2 linked regions of the Homo sapiens genome follow. The protein of the gene in region 1 purifies or fractionates together with the protein of each later gene. This does not show direct contact. Each region holds a gene or a part of one and is shown on either strand. Other genes may lie near its edges.

Region 1 (3,650 bases):
TCCTGGCTCAATGCAACCTGCACCTCCTGGGCTCAAGCCTTCCTCCCACCTCAGCCTCCCAAGTAGCTGGGTCTACAGGCACACGCCATAGTGCCTGGTTAATTGTTTTTGTAGTTTTTGTAGAGACAGGGCTTCACCACGTTGCCCAGGCTGGTTTTGAACTCCGAGCTCAAGCTATCCACCCACCTCAGCCTCCCAAAGTACTGGGATTACAAGTGTGAGTCACCGTGCAAGCTTCCCAATGCTTTCAATGCATGGCTGGCTGAATCCACGATGCGGAACCCACAGGTGTAGGACCTGTGGATACAGAGAGCCGAAAGTACTTCAAACCAAAAGCCCCCTAACTGGTATACAGCTTTCAAAAGCGAGGCACTGCAGCACACGCCTATGGCCTCAGCTACTAGGGGAGCTGACGGGCGGGGGACTGCTTGAGTCCGGATGTTCAAGACCAGCTTGAGCAACACAGCGAGACCTCATCTCAAATATATTAATTTAAAAAATAGTAAGTTAATTTTTTAAAGTTTTCTTTGCTCTTATCTGTGCAAATAAGGCAAATTTAGATTTTTTTTTCTTTTTGAGATAGAGTCTTGCCCTGTAGCCCAGGCTGGAGTGCAATGGCGCAATCTTGGCCCACTGCAACCTCTGCCTCCCGGGTTCTAGCGATTCTCCTGCCTCAACCTCCCAAGTAGCTGGGATTACAGGCATGGGCCATGACGCCTGGCTAATTTTTTTGTATCTTTAGTAGAGACGGAGTTTCACCATGTTGGCCAGGCTGGTCTCAAACTCCTGACTTCATGATTCACCCGCCTTGGCCTCCCAAAGTGCAGGGATTACAGGCGTGAGCCACCGCGCCCAGCCTATATTCAATTATTTTAAAGCAGAAGACATTTTACCTTGGCTTCCAATTGATTGGCAAAAAAGGGAGGGTTGCACATGCAAAAGTCATAGATTATCTCAGATTCTTCTTTAAGAGCATCCATCAGGAGTGTCTTCTGTGGCACTTTCACCACTAGGAGAAAAAACAGGACTGTGAACTAATATTAATGTTGCAGTGGTTCTAAAGTATAACCGCGCACTGCGTAATGATTCTTTGGTCAACTGCATATATGATGGTGGTCCCGTAAGATTATAACACCACATTTTTACTGTACCTTTTCTATGTTTGATATGCTTAGATAGACAAATACCATTGTGCTAAAATGGCCTTCAGTATTCAATACAGTGACATACTGTTCAGGTTATAGCCTAGGAGCCACAGGCTATTACACATAGGCCCAGGTGTGTAGTAGGCTACACCATTCAGGTGTGTGTGAGCACACACTACGATGAATCACCTAACAATGCATTTCTCAGAATATATCCCTGCTGTTAAGTAAGGTGTGACTGTATGTCCTCAAACTCTTCGACAGTACTCCCTTCAGGAGATGGAGTTTAATTTCCCTCCCCTTAAGTATAGGCTGCATTTTAAGGACACTCAAATAGCTTCATGGAGAGATCCACATGGCTATGAACTAGGGTTTCCTTCCAAGAGTCGTGTGAGTGAGCCATGAGTAAGCCATCTTGGAAGCAAATCTCTACCACCCATACATCCTTCAGATGACTGTAGCTCTAGCCAACAACTTGACCGCAAATGCATCAAAGGGTCTCAGCTAGAACCACTCAACTAAGCCATGCCAAAATTTATGACCCATAGGAACTAGGAGATAAATGTTTATTGTTTAAAGTTGCTAGGGCCAAGTGTGATGGTTCATGCCTGTAATCCCAGTGCTTTGGGAGGCCAAGACGGGAGAACTGCTTGAGACCAAGAGTTCCAGATTAACCTGGGCAATACAGCAAGAACCTATCTCTACAAAAATTTTAAAAATAAGAAAATTATCTGAGCATGGTGGTACGAGCCTGTAATTCCAGCTACTTGGGAGGCTAAAGTGAGAGACTGCTTGAGCCCAGGAGGCTGAGGCTGCAGCGAGCCATGATCACGCCACGGCACACCGGCATGGATGACAGAGTGAGACCCTGTCTCTAATAAAAAAATGTTTTTTTTTTGTTGTTGTGTGTGTGTGTTTTTTTTTTCTAAAAGGCTCCTAGCGCCAGGCATGGTGGCTCATGCCTATAATTCCAACACTTCGGGAGGCCGAGGCAGGTGGATCACTTGAGGTCAGGAGTTCGAGACCTGCCTGGCCAACATGGTGAAACCCTGTCCCTACTAAAAAATTACAAAACTTAGACGGGTGTGGTGGTGGGCACCTACAATCCCAGCTACTCAGGAGGCTGAGGCAGGAGAATCACTTGAACCTGGGAGACAGAGGTTGCAGTGAGCAGCAGATTGTGCCATTGCACTCCAGCCTGGGCGACACAGCAAGACTCTGTCTCAAAAAATAAAAAATAAAAATAAATAAATAAATAGGCTCCTAGATTTTGGAATAATTTGTTACACAACAATGGAGAAATAAAACAAATGCACTAATAATATTAATGTCTCCCCTTACAAAGATATGTTCAATACTATGAAGAAAAGTCTTATTTCTTTCATAAAGAGACATAAAATCTCTTTAACGGAAAAAAAATTAACACTGCTTTATACACAGAATGGTCACAAAAATAAAAAGTAACTAATCACAAGGGGATTTGACTATTTCTAGCACAGTTCTATGTACTGAAATTATTATTTGTTTTTGAGACACAGTCTCATTCTGTAGAACAGGATAGAGTGCAGCGGCGAGATCTCCACTCAACTGCAACCTCTGCCTCCTGGGTTCAAGCGATTCTCCTGCCTCAGCCTCCCAAGTAGCTGGGATTACAGATGCCCATCACCACGCCTGGCTAATTTTTGTATTTTTAGTAGAGATGGAGTTGCACCATGTTGGTCAGGCTGGTCTCAAACTCCTCACCTCAGACAATCTGCTTCGGCCTCCCAAAGAGCTGGGATTACAGGTGTGAGCCACCGCACCCGGCCTATGTACTGAAATTAAAAAGATGGTATAGTTTAATCAACAGTAGGGTTTCCTTCCTTTTAAAATCTTGGTGACTAAGTTACTTCATATATAGTCAATTCTCATTATCTGCGCTAGTTATATTCTACAAAGTAGCCACAAATAGTCAATGAGTGAATACTGAACCACTGATTCCCAGGGGAAATACAGGGTTAGGTTCCTACAAGTCTCTCTTCGTATTTTCATCAACTGATAGACACACAACCTTATTTTATGGTGTTCCTGTTCAAAGACACTTTATCGAATATATGTCGCTGATTCACTAACACTGAACTCATGGCCAACAGCACTACAGCTCGCGTCTGAAGGAAGCTTGTCTAACACACGTGTTTTCTCTGTAAGGCACATCACAGCCTTTTTGCACTGAGGAACACAAGACAGCCTTTCAGCACTATGTTTAGGGACTATTTTAAACAGCAAAATCACCAAGAGAAAGCACAAAAATGAAAAAGAAAAAAAAAACCCCAAAACGTGGTATTAAATAGACCAATAAAAGGACGCTTGGTTCACAGTCCGGAAGCTGGAGTAAGAAGGCAGAGCATTGCCTTGTTGAGCCTCAGCTGGGAACATGCACACTGGGGCAACTCCAATTATTTGCCACTATGCACAAGTCTGTGAATGACCACAAAAGTACCATGAATGTCAATTTTAAGTTAAAAA
Region 2 (3,650 bases), on another chromosome or scaffold:
ATTTCTTACAATTACATAGTAATAAGCAAATGCCCCAGTATTCCTCCTCCTCTCCCCCTTAACAGACCCGTATCAGCAACAACTTCTCCCCAAGCTAAGCAGCAGTGGGTGGGCTATCCACAGGGTAACACTCATCAAACAGCAATATGGAGTTGGAGATGGCAGTGGTTGTGGGTGGTGACCAAAGGACTGAGAAATAACATGCACTGGACTTACCCCCTGTTCGAAGAGCTGCAGCAAGCATCTCCCTACACTTCAACCGCACAGAATCAGAAGTGCTTGGTGCCCGAGGAAAGGATGAAACATAAGTATCTCGAGCATTTGTCTCATCCTTTCTGTTGCTTACATTGCCGCTGGAAGTACTGAAATACGCACAAACACCCCAAAAAGAAATCAAGAACAATCCTTTCAAAGTAACAATACTACTATCATGCTGTAAAAACAAAATTTGGGGTCTAAATAAATGACACAGTATCTCAGTGACCTTTATGTGATGGAAAAAAAATTGCCTGCATACAGATTAAAAAGAAGTTAAAAATTTTACAATTTAGTAAAGTGACAAGTATGCCTTTTTTTTGAACTAAACATTTTATCTTTGATTCTCATTTTAAATATTAAGCAATATTTTTAATAGAGAAAATACCCATTATAGCTCAGTACAATAAATGAAAAGCAATGATCTTGGTATAAGGAGAGGGATGAAGGGATGGGACCAGAGAATGACAGCTTTCTTTTTTGAGACGGAGTCTTGCTCTGTCACCCAGGCTGGAGGGCAATGGTGCAATCTCGGCTCACTGCAAGCTCCACCTCCCAGGTTCACACCAGAGAATGACAGCTTTCAACCAAAACTAGAGATAGAGAGAGAGAATGCTTGAAAAACTCTGTTTCACTGGGCATGGTGGCTCACAGCTGTAATCCCAGCACTTTGGGAGGCCAAGAGAGGCAGATCACTTGAGGCCAGTAGAGTTCAAATCCAGCCTGGGCAAAATGGTGAAACCCCGTCTCTATTAAAAATACAAAAATTAGCTGGGCGTGGTGGCACACGCCTGTAATCCCAGCTACTTGGGAGGCTGAGGCAGGAAAATCGCTTGAACCCAGAGGCAGAGGTTTCAGTGAGCCAAGACTGCACCACTGCACTCCAGCCTGGGTGACACAGCGAGACTCCACCTCAAAAAAAAAAAAGAACAAAAAGAAAAAGGAAAACCTTGTTCCACTTAGACAGTGAGTTCCCCAGTGAGACAAATACCATGTGTACTGATGAGTCATGAGGCTACAAAATGGTGTGTTTCTCCCCAGAAACATCACCTCGATATGAACATTTAGGCAGTTTTATAATTTTCCAGTCAACCTAATCCTTTCAATTGCTTCTGAGTAGCTTCTTACGTTGGATTATCACTAAAATGGGTTCTTTCCAAAATAATCTTCATGATTACAATTAAGCTTTATCACATTGAAAACAGCTGCCATAACCCTTTTCAAAGACTGATTAAATCATCCACCATCCATAGATGTGGTTTGCTGCAATGCTACAAGAACATACTCCCTTGCCTTCTCTCCAAAACATAACCACTGTTAAACTTCACAAACAGGTGCCTGTGGGTCAGACGGACATTAGTACCTTTTAAATTTAGTCAGTTCCTTTTTGAAGCCTTCACTGATTTCCCCCTGTATTCCCAAAATATTGATTCACACAGGTTTGTATATGATAACTTTTCATACATTTTCTTCTCTATCAGACTGAGTTTCTCAAGAGCAAAAACTAGGATTTACTTTTCTTTGTATTTTCATTATGTAGCATAATGCCTCTCAGTGATAAATGAATGAGCAAACTAATGCTTAAAAACCCATTTATTATTTTTTTTTTTAAGACTCCAGCCTGAGCAACTGAGCAAGACTTTTCACAGTGGTGAAGAGAGCAAGAGTTGTGCAGTGGTGCCATCACAGCTCATGCAGCTTTGAACTCCTGGGCTCAAGCAATCCTCCTGCCTCAGCCTCCTGAGTAACTAGGACTACAGGTGCATGCCACCATGCCCAGTTAATTTTAAAAATATTTTTTGGCCGGGCAAGCTGGCTCATGCCTGTAATCCCAGGAGTTCAAGAACAGCCCGGACAAAATAGTGAGACCCAGGGTCTACAAAAAGAGTTTTAAAAATTTGCCAAACATGGTGGTATGCACCTGTGGTCCTAGCTACTTGGGGGCTGAAGTAGGGGGCTCGCTTGAGACTGAAAGGTTGAGGCTGCAGAAAGCCTTGACTACGCCACTGCACTCCATCCTGGGTAAAAGAGCAAGACTCTGTCTCCAAAAAAAAAAAATAATCCAACAAACAAACCTTTTTTTTTTGGTAGAGAAAGGGTCTATGTTGTCCAGGCTGGTCTCAAACTCCTGACCTCAAGTGATAATTCCGCCTCGGCGTCCTAAAGTGCTTGAGCCACCGTGCCAGGCCCCAAAACTCATTTCTTTTCTTTTTTTTTTTTTTTTTCTTTTGAGACAGTCTTACGCTGTCACCCAGACTGGAGTGCAGTGAAACAACCATGGCTTACTGCAGCCATGACCCCCAAACTCAGACGGTTCTCCTGCCTCAGCCTCCCAAGTAGCTGGGACCACAGGCATGTGCCATCACACCTGTCTAATGCTTTTTATTACTTGTAGAGACAGGGCCTCCCTATGTTGCTCAGGCTAGTCTCAAACTCCTGGGCTCAAGTGATCCCCCTACCTTGACCTCCCAAAAGTGCTGACATTACAGGTGTGAGCCACCACACCCAGCCAAAAACCCAGTTCTTAAACACTTTGATTAAATGCTTTTGCTTCTGTGTCTGTAGCCAAATGCTCCACAGGAACCAAGGGAAATTGCCCATATGGGCTGAGGGAAACTTTTCCTCACTAGTTTCACTACTGCTGGTCCCACTTCCTACATTCTGATCCTTCCTTTCTAAGCATTTAAACACATTACTTTCTTCTTAAATTCTTGCACCCAAAATATAAAATCCTGCTTAGCTACAAGCAACTTAGATTTAACCTTCTATCTTTCTTTACATGACTCCTCAAAATTCATTTCTCAATCCTCCTGTATTTCTGTGTGTGTTGGGGCGGGGATGGGGTGTAGATAGATACCAATCAGTTACTTTATCAGACTTCACATACAGTAATTTTCTTTTGCAGACAGGCTCTATACCTACACGTCAAGCACGTAAAACTGATAAAAGACAACGAGAGGCCAGGCGCAGTGGCTCACGACAGTAATCCCAGTACTTTGAGAGGCCAAGGTGGGTGGATCACTTGAGGTCAGGAGTTCGAGACCAGCCTGGTCAACATGATGAAACCCCATCTTTACTAAAAGTACAAAAATTAGCTGGGTGTGTTGACGTGCACCTCTAATCCCAGCTACTCGGGAGGCTGAGACAGGAGAATCGCTTGAACCTGGGGGACAGAGGTTGCAGTGAGGCAAGATTGTGCCACTGCATTCCAGCCTGGGCAACAGAGCAAGACTCCGTCTCAAAAAAAAAAATAAAAACAAGGCTGGGCGCGGTGGCTCAGGCCTGTAATCCTAGCACTTTGGGAGGCCAAGGCGGGCGGATCACCTGAGGTCAGGAGTTCAAGACCAGCCTGATCAAAATGGAGAAACCCCGTCTCCACTAAAAATACAAAATTA

What was found. The genes of interacting proteins can lie anywhere in the genome.
Region 2: the proteins of METTL16 (region 1) and TCEA1 fractionate together in Homo sapiens (co-fractionation; one large-scale study listed by BioGRID). This does not show direct contact.

The regions. Positions count from the first base shown.
Region 1 is NC_000017.11:2,466,868-2,470,517, forward strand, and holds part of METTL16 (RNA N(6)-adenosine-methyltransferase METTL16), read right to left. Parts: intron 1,010-3,650; coding exon 894-1,009; intron 373-893; exon of another isoform or gene 187-372; intron 1-186. UniProt on the Homo sapiens protein: RNA N6-methyltransferase that methylates adenosine residues at the N(6) position of a subset of RNAs and is involved in S-adenosyl-L-methionine homeostasis by regulating expression of MAT2A transcripts.
Region 2 is NC_000008.11:53,987,898-53,991,547, forward strand, and holds part of TCEA1 (transcription elongation factor A protein 1), read right to left. Parts: intron 363-3,650; coding exon 217-362; intron 1-216. Other genes in the region: LYPLA1-TCEA1 readthrough, read right to left, coding at 217-362.